Regions from separate parts of the Homo sapiens genome. Here regions 2 and 3 are each reported to be linked to region 1. Evidence: microRNA targets listed by miRTarBase, many of them from high-throughput screens and not tested one by one. Region 1 holds a microRNA gene; each other region holds the end of a gene's coding sequence.

Region 1 (3,172 bases):
TATTGAAAAGTTGCATGAAAGTGGAATAGTGTAAAGTCAATCACATTTTAAATAACCTGGGAAAGTTTGTTACTCAGTCCTACACCAAAACAAGCTATAAAAATTCAGATTTCTGGTTTTTTTAAAAAGCTAATGTAATGAGAAAGGATAGAGGAGAAATTCCATGTTACAGTTATTCACAACCTCCCTTTTTCATTCATTTCTAACAAATTATTGAAGAAATTATAGAATGTCTGAAGTCAATTTGAAGTTAAATTATAACTTCTCTGTTGACTTGGTTAACATGGTATTTTTATTTTCTTTTTGTACTGATTTTCCTTTTGTGCCTGTCTATATTGCATACATATTTCTCTAATTACTTGTACAAAATACTTGGATGAAATTCTCTGTAGAATGAGATATAAATTAATATAAACAATATTTATGTAGGAAATAACAAGAAAAAAGTAGTAGCTACAAAAGTAGGCCCTGGTGAATATTTACGGCAGTTATTAAAAACCTCATGATTTTTTAGTTAATCTTCCTAAGAAATTTCATTTATATTATCTATGGTTATTTTGAGTTTCTCTCTCCTCTTTTTTTTCTTTTTTTTTTTTTTTTTTTGGTCTCTCTGTTTGGGTATTGTGTTAGTCTCTTCTCACACTTCTATAAAGACATACCTGAAACTGGGTAATTTATAAAGAAAAGAGGTTTAATTGGCTCATGGCTCTACAGGCTGTACAGACTTCTGCTTCTGGGGAGGCCTCAGGAAACTTACAATCATGGTGGAAGGCAAAGGGGAAGCAAGCACATCTTATGTGGCCAGCAGGAGGAAGAAGATAGTGGGGAGGTGCTACAGACGTTTTAACAAGCAGGTCTGGGGAGAACTCTATCAGAAGACACCTCTAGGGAAATAGTGCTAAGCCGTTAGAAACGGCCCCATGATCCAATCACCTCCTACTAGACCCCCTCCTCCAATACTGGAGATTACAATTTCACATGAGAATTGGGCAGGTACTCAAACTCAAACCATATCAGGGGTATAACTTTCATGTTATAAGCCTTCCTTAATATCTGCTAATCCTTTGCTATGCATTTATATTTAGGAACAAGTTATCACAATTCTACAATTCTGACTGGAGATGGCTTAGCATGGCAGGCTTCACTGTAGAGTGGTCAGCTGGAGAGAGACCTCCCTGCTATGGGCATCCACAGGTCTTTTCTTTTAAACAGTGATTTCCCTCAAAAAGGAAGCCTCAGATCTATTGCCTGGAATATATAAGGCAAATGATTGGGTTTCTCAGAGATACAACTAGGTGAATAAAGGGAAGGGGAAGACCTCATAATTCAAGATGCAGATCTCACAGTTCGGTGTGTAATATTCATTTTATTCATCTGATTTTAATATTTCATTCCCATCCTCAGCTTTTTCTGGTGTTCTAGAGCATGGTTTCTCATCATTTGCACTACTGATACTTGGGGTCAGATAATTGTTTGTGGTGGGGGCTGTTGTTTGCATTGTAGGATGTTAGAAGAATCCTTCTTGGACTTCTACCCACTAGATGCCAGAAACACCCCACCACAAGTTGGGACAACCAAAAATGTCTTCATGGCATATTGCCAAATATCCCTTGGGAAGCAAAATTGAACATGGTTGAGACCTACTGTTCTAAAGTAATCCCTGTTATTCAATCTCTCCAATGTTGAATAAGAGGCTTGTCCTCTTCTGGCATGTGTCTATTTGTGTATGAGGGAGACCAGAAGAGGAGTGCAGTTATCATACTATGCAGGAGTTGATGCAGGATTCTAACCACATACCAGCTTTCAACCAATCTTTACATCTTTATCACCATTGAATCTTTAGATGTATCTGTTGTCTATAAGTCCAGAAGCTTTCCTGAATTCTGTGGTGGAAATCAACTGGTTTCTTCGTTTCTATAATGAATAATTTTACTCTTCTTTTCTCTTTAAACTCAGTTAGGAATTGTCTGTCTGCTTCCAGCTTCCAAAATTTTCTTGATGCATCTTAACTGCAGTTATTTGGTCTCTTGTTTTTTCTGTGAACCAAAAAGTATCTGAGACAGGTCTCAATCAATTTAGAAAGTTTACTTTGCCAAGGTTAAGGACACGCCCATGACACAGCCTCAGGAGGTGCTGACATGTGCCCAAGGTGGTTGACGTACACCTTGCCTTTATACGTTTTAAGGAGACATAATACATCAAGCAATCTATGTGAGATTTACATTGGTTCAATCTGGAAGAGTGGAGACAGCTGGAAGTGGGGGTGAGGTAGAGATGGGGATTCCAAATCATAGCTGGATTCAAAGATATTCTGATTGGTAATTTGCTGAAAGAGCTATTATAAATAGAAAGGAATGGCTGGGCTAGAATAAGGGGTTGTGGAGACCAAGGTTTTATCATGCAGATGAAGCCTCTAAGTAGCAGGCTTCAGAGAGAAAAGAATGTAAATGTTTCTTATCACATTTAAAGTCTGTGTTGATGTTAATGCTGATTGGCTTTTCCTGAATTCCAAAAGGGAGGAGGATATAATGAGGCATGTCTGACCCCCTCTTCCATCATGGCCTGTATTAGTTTTTCACGTTAACTCTGGAATGCCCTTGACGAGAGGAGGGGTCCATTTAGATGATTGAGGAGACTTAGAATTTTATTTTTGGTTTATAGTTCTCTTTGTCTTTAGGCATTGAAGGATTTTTTTTTTTCTTTTAACTTCTTTACTCTAATTTTTGTAAATTTTCAGAAGGAAAAGTTATAAATGTGTGTTCTGTTTATCATGCTTCTGAGGGAATTTTGAATATTAAAAGCAAATCTTTAAAAAAGTGTTTAGCCTGTGTTTATTGCAGGCTACTTTGGATTATGTCCTCAGAATGTGGAAAGTACGTTTTATTTTTGCTAGAGCATTATTACTAGCTCAAGAACATCATGACTAGTACAAGTTCATTAGTGTGTGCACAAGCAAAGGTATAGCTTCTGAAGATGGGTCTGGCAACAACTTACATCTAAGTTTTGAGAATAACCAGCACACTGCTAAAGCCATCGTTAGTGCTCAATTTATTCGGCTTGATTGGTTAACTGATTCATTTGATCCTTACAATTACTCTGTGAAGCAGAACACACAAACATTGGAATCCATAGAAAGAGACACAGTGAGGTTGACTTGTTTAACATTACAAAG
Region 2 (3,172 bases), not on the chromosome of region 1:
GCACTCATAGTAGTAGTTACAGCAACATGGACCACTCTTTCCTCCTAGGGGATAGAAGATAATCAGACACTTAGCAAAGATGCTATTAGTATCTGGGAATTTGCCCCCAACTTTCAGAAAGACACTAAATTTAATCCATAGGAAAACATCTTTCAGAGTATTAGTTTCTAAAGTTTCCCTTTCAGCCCTACTTTTTGCAGCCTTTTTCACAGCCAATGGCAGATACAGGTGCAATAAGTAATTTCTGTGGTACTTATTCACTTGGGAGATTTTGGTGATAGTAAAACATTTTCTTTGAAAGTCATGTTTGTTCTTTTCACCAAACAGCAACTCTTAAAAGAATTTTCACTTATTTTTCCATGGAAAAACACTGAGGATATAATTTTTTTAAAAGAGCATTATTCAATGTTGACCTTCAAAAGCTGATTGTAAAATACCTCATCATATAATCTACAGCCAGAGAGTAACTCAGCAATTGTGTAGTCCAGCATTTCTACAACCTAGGTATCCACATGTACCTTAGGATGACATTGGCAGGTAGTGTGAGGAGCTAGGGGAATGGGGGGTGGTGGCAAGAATAACAAATAGTGGTACATGCTAAATTTAGTTTAGAAAATTCTGGGTTAATTCGATAAATATTTAAGGAACATCAATTACATGCCAGGCTGTCTACTAGATGCAGAGTAAGACAGATTTATACCAGAATTTTCTTAAAGCCTCGAACAAGCTACTGTTCACAATGAGCACAGTGACCATATATCCTAATTTGCTGTAGACAGCCCCAGTTTACAGGCGCTATTCCAGCATTAATATCATCTCTTTTTACCTCTATAATCCTACATATGACTCTCTAAGAGGTGTGTGTGTGTGTGTGTGTGTGTGTGTGTGTGTGTGTATGTGTGTAGCAAACAGATTTTCCTAAACTTAGATGGCCAATTACATACTTATACCTACATTCCTACGATTATCTCCTAAAACAGTGATCTTGGTCCACAGAACATAGTTTGGGGTCTACTACATTCTTATCATTTGATAGCTGAGGAAACAAAGGATCTGAGAATTAAATAGACTCAGCTAGAAAACGGCAGACATGGGATACTAAAGCCTAGGACTCCTGGCTCATAGAGATAGCTCTAATGCCCTTTCTGATATATCACAGACTGTGATACTAAAGCACCCTTAACATGATGTTAACAAGTTCTACTACAAAAATAAGTCAGCAAGTTTCACATTTTAATTTCATTTTAAAGGAAGTTCATTTTGTTCTTTTTCAATCATAACTGTAAAATTAATCAAAAACAGAGTCAATGAGAAAATATTATCTTTTAGGCAACTCTTCAAGACTATAAGCCCAGTTCACTTATTCCTACACTCTCCTTTCCCTCCCCTCACTCTCTATTAAATATAAAGTAGCTGATTTCTTTATGTCTTTATAGTATCATTGGCTTCACAGGTGTGTGCTGGGGTGGGGGAGGAGAAGTTAATTCTATCCATCAATCAACAACATTTTCAGTGTCTACCACAAAGCGTTCTGCTATAATATTTTACTCACATTGTGGTTCCAAGTGTTTTTTTTTTTAAAGTGAGGATACTATAATAGTGCCTTGGGCCATATGGTACTTACACAAATTCCAAGCAGTCAAATTACAATATAATTCCATTATTATTTTTAGGTTTCTATAAGCTTACTAACAGAGGCCATTTTCTGATTCTGGTTGCACCAAAAGGTATGGCCCTAGAAAAAAAATCATGCAAAGAATTTTATCTTTAAAAATTAGTTATTCAAATTTTTGATCATCCATGGCACTGATATTTCTAGCTAACTGCTATGCATTTTAAGCAACTTACACAGTTCTTCCAGAGAAAAAGGAGTGAATGATCATATAGTCTTTAAAAAGAAAGCCTATGAGCTAAGAAATAGAATAGCCTGTTCTGAAAAAGGAAAAAGTAGAAAATGTTAGTGAAAACAGGGTTTAAACCCTTAGGAAATTCATTTCTGTATAGGATATCATTTTGTTCATCACCAAGAAAAGGTAGTCAATATTAATTAAATCTTACACAGGCAAGATAACCAGTTAAGTAGATGAGAAGAAAATTGCAAGGTGAGTAAGGCAAAAAAAACATTTCTAGAAAGGAACTATTCTTGGATTTGCAGATGGAATATGAGGTGTACATGTAACAGAATATCCTTGTCACATATTGGAAGTTGTGATTGTGTGACAGAGCTCTAATGTTTGTAACACAGCAGACTCTTCTGTAATAATTATTTTAAAAGGCTTGCCTATGATAATTTACCATTTGAAGTAATGAACTTATTCAAGTATAACTATTGTACTTAGTTATAATCCCATTTTTTTTAAAAAAAGGAATACAGATATTGATCACATCAAACATTTTCATTGAGAAATTGACACGGACACTAATGAGGTTTATCATGGATGGTCTCAGAAGCTTTCCTGTGTATGTGAAGCAGAACTACAGGCCTTTTTGTATAAGTTCCTGTACATCTTGTCCATGCTGTTCTCAAAGATGGGTCGGTGGGATTTTCCCTTATAAGAGGCTGCCCTGTTGGACCAGTATTCACCGTCATCCAAATGGAAAGTGCCACGTGGCTGCTGACATGAGCTATAAAAAGGGATATAAAAGGTTCAAAACAATAATGAAACAAAATTAGAGATAGTACTATGTAAATCAAATATTTATTGAGTACTCTATGGCTATTTAATTCTCTGCTGGGGCTGTGAAAAATAAAACAGAGTAAGGCCTGTGCTTTCAAAGAGGGACATTTTAAAAGGGGAGGCAGAAGTATCTGTGTAAAACTGTTATAAAACAGTAAAATGAAAATTTTGTGTTAGAGTGAAAAAGGAATTCAGAGAACAGACACAGGTACAGCATAATAAAAGCAGAACATAATAAAAGCAGTTCTTATACTGGCCTGGTATGGCCAGTATAAGAATGCACAGCCCAAGGCACAGTGGCTCACGCCTATAATCCCAGCACTTTGGGAGGCTGAGACGAGCAAATCACCTGAGGTCGGGAGTTCGAGACTAGCCAGACCAACATGGAGAAACCCCATATCTACTAAAAAATACAAAATTAGCTGAGGATGGTGGCGCTTGCCTATAATCCCAGCTACTCGGGAGGCTGAGGAAGAAGAATCACTTGAAACCGG
Region 3 (3,172 bases), not on the chromosome of region 1:
ATTTTATTTCAAAATGACTGAGGGGGTTTATATAAATAGCTTTCTTGATGATTCTTTTGGTAAAGTCAGTACTTCTTTAATAGCTAAGATATCAGTTGTGAATTGACCTTGTGGGTTCATTAGGAGGATTACCGGCTGGGCTTGCTACAGGAGGCCCCCCTGTAGTGAGGCATTTCCTCCCAGTGGCTTTCCAACTGTGTCCCATGAACCTCTGCTGGGGTGAAGTATGGGAGAAAGGGCAGGCCAGTCTGGCCTTCCTCCTCTTCCTCCTTCTCCTCCCACCCCTGACTCCCCACCCAACCAACTCTATTGGTTTTCCTGCCAAAAGGCATTTACCTCCCTGCATTGGTGACTTTGCCTCCTGGGGCTGGACTCCTGAAACCCTGACCTAGGCTTCAGGCCTGCTTCGATTCAGTTGTGTCTGGCATGCTGTCAGTGAGACCTAAGCCTGCCGTCTCCAGGAAATGCACTCTGAGGACAGCAAAGGGCAGCTATGCTTTTTTAGACACATTCCAAGATGGAAGGGACAGTGGGGGAGAAGCAGGTGCTGCAGAAGTTGACTCTGTCACTCCTGATTATTTTAAAAGGCCAGTTTGGGTCAAACTGGTCTTTGACTTAGGAATCCTGCTGCCCAGAGGGGCTCGTGTTCTGGTCTGGTAGTTGGTGGGACTTTTCCTCCTTTAGGCTCAGAGATCCTTTTTCTGTCAGGGGCTGATACAATGGAAATTTTTCCAAAAAAAAGTTTATGAAAGTTGGAGAATTTTAGTGGTAAAAATGGGAGATTGGGAGTAAACATAACATATCAAGATATTGAGGCAGGAAAAAAAAAGGGGTGAGATGGGTCATCCATGCATCCCAGCTACTGTGAAACTGCATTCTAGGCTTTTGAGGTGAGCTTCCTCAACTTATATCTACATAGCATATCTTTTAAAATAAAAAACAGACGTACCTGTCTAGGCGCACCCCTAGGAGTTACAGGGGACAGGCGTTTGGTGGACCAAGTTGCGTGAGACATACAAGTGATTGATCTCATGAGATCTGGGGCGGGGGATGCAGGTGGCTTGGCAGTCAGGCAGGAGTGAAAGGAGCTGTGTGTGTTGAGAGTGACACAGAGTCTAGGGTTTCCTCTCCTTGAAAGAGTTCATTCCTTAATGGCAAAGGAAAATCCTGGTCATGTCAGTAGGTGAAGGTGGCCAAATTAGCAAAGACGTCTGTGGTGAGACCACCTCTCCCAACCCGTGTGGCTTGCAAAATGATCATTCAAACCAGGACACATGTAAGTTCCACTCATATGTGGGAGAGGGAAGGCGAGCCTGTTTTTGCTGAGTCTCTGATCTAGGCGGTCTCCAGAGGGCTATGTGGGTTGTACTTCTTCGATGCCCATGTGAGAGTCACCACAGCCTGAGACACATAAGGAGAATGCAGTAGTGCCAGCCTGTGGCCTTCTGTTCTGGGTTCTGCAGTGTGTGTGTATTGATTGGGGAATGTGGGTAAGAAAACCCTCGCCGAAATGTGTTCTCTCTGCAGTGCTGATGCGGGGATGGGGTACCAGAGAGGAGTGGATGGGCCACAGGTAGGAAAACAAAATCTGTTTTGAAAAGGTATAGCTTCAGGAACTCACCTGGCCCCACTCGTGTCCTTGGGGTTTCTGCATTGAGCCTGGAGGCCACCCATACCTTGCCAGGCAAGCCCAGTCTGCCCTGAATCTGGGGTACCAGACCTGACTAATGAGATGTCTCCCTTCTGTGCTGAAAGGAGGCACACAGAACTTGTTCTGGTTTTTTGGGGTCCCAACACAGAACCGAGTCCTTACGGATGAGGTGGCCTGGTCTGCTCTTGGAGAAGCAGGGTGGCAATAGTCGACAGGGCCAGTATTCTCAGATGACCATTGTTCTTTCTGGCTGTGGGATGTGGGGTTGTGACCACCCCCGAGACTCGGCCTAAGGCAGGGAAGGATATAGTTGGACCTCGGAGAGCATCTTTCTGCTTACTAGCATTTGAGATTATAAAATTTTTTTTTAATCAAAAATTTCCAAAATAAAGTGAGTGATTTCCCCATCCCCCAAGATGCAGTAAGTCTTGTTGGCTCTCCCTCAGGCTTACAGCAAGTCAAATGGAAAGAAAAGCAAGAAGCAGCTGCGAGGGAGAAGATGCGGTCCCACGCGAGGACGGATGGGCTTTCAGTTCGGGAGGGAGGCCCCTGCTCCTGGTCGGCCTCTGCTTCCGGGCCACTCCGTCAGGGCAAAGTCTGGCTGGGTCTGGCAGTAAGGGACAATGACTATGTGAAGGCAACTGACAGAGGTGTCTGCTTGGAGAGCAGGATCCCTTGGTTCCATGATGTCCCCAGGTCACTCGGTGTGCAGCTTGGCACAGAAATGATCCCTTTACACAGCAGCATATGTTCTCATCGTAGCTCAAGGCATAAATCATACTTCCTAACGAAAAAACCCCAATCTTGGTAGCAGCGCATACCTTATACTAGGAAACTTGCAAGGAGACCAGTGTTGAACCACAAAGCGAGTACAGGTTTTTGCTTTTGTCTGTAAAAATGTACAGCGTACCTGCTTGAGGCTGCAGTGTCAGGACTAGGGGGTGTTCCTTGGCCCAGGGCTCTGCTCTGGGCCCTTCATACCTCACCCACCCACACCACTGTGGTCCCCCCCTTTATACCTGACACCTCACACCGCAGCGTGTTTTGTCTCCCATTGATGAGGAACAGTGACTCTCGGGCTGGTGTGAGGAGGTACTGTCCAAACAGCCCACTGTCCCTCATGATTCTGTGGGTACCCCCCCAGGGCTGAGCTGGCCCTGCGGGTGGCTCCTTTAAGTTCTTCAGCATGCCCACCTTCCCCGTGGACAGCTCCAGGAACAGCAGGTCCGGCTCCGTGTGCAGAGCCGCGTAGATGTTGTATTGATTGCTTTCAGTGAAGGAGCGCTGGAAGGCCAAGTCTGAGATGCCCGAGTTTATTTGCAGGTCATACAGGGTCTGGATCTCGCCCCGCACTGTGATCTCCTGCACGTGCAGCCAGGGGCTGTCAGCTGCAGCACTGACTATGAAGCGCCCGTCGGGGGATGTGTGTGGGGTGCCTGTTACATCACCATTGGGGCCAAGCACAGAGTCTGTGACACTGTCAACGAGCAGCTGTCGGGCAGCAGAGGCGGGGCTGTCCTG

The links. Region 1 holds the annotated microRNA hsa-miR-4447 (GGUGGGGGCUGUUGUUU, at 1,478-1,494, shown strand). A microRNA usually pairs through its seed, bases 2 to 8, with sites in the 3' UTR of a target mRNA and lowers its output. Matches are read on the target gene's strand: a 7mer-m8 pairs with bases 2 to 8, a 7mer-A1 pairs with bases 2 to 7 and ends in A, and an 8mer does both.
Region 2: miRTarBase lists SPATA6 as a target of hsa-miR-4447. Seed matches in the 3' UTR shown: 7mer-m8 at 1,466-1,472.
Region 3: miRTarBase lists FSTL4 as a target of hsa-miR-4447. Seed matches in the 3' UTR shown: 7mer-A1 at 1,910-1,916 and 7mer-m8 at 530-536.

The regions. Positions count from the first base shown.
Region 1 is chr3:116,848,611-116,851,782 of GRCh38, reverse strand. MIR4447 (microRNA 4447) reads left to right here and starts at 1,416; the gene lies at 1,416-1,506. RefSeq lists enhancers at 1,724-2,359, 2,360-2,994.
Region 2 is chr1:48,296,269-48,299,440 of GRCh38, forward strand. SPATA6 (spermatogenesis associated 6) reads right to left here. Exons shown (of 13, transcript NM_019073.4): 13 at 1-2,625. The coding sequence ends at 2,445. Among named protein-coding and RNA genes, the nearest start is that of SLC5A9, 75 kb to the left of the region's middle.
Region 3 is chr5:133,196,469-133,199,640 of GRCh38, forward strand. It overlaps FSTL4 (follistatin like 4), which reads right to left. Exons shown (of 16, transcript NM_015082.2): 16 at 1-3,172. The coding sequence ends at 2,627. Among named protein-coding and RNA genes, the nearest start is that of CTB-49A3.2, 9.8 kb to the right of the region's middle. RefSeq lists an enhancer at 3,033-3,172.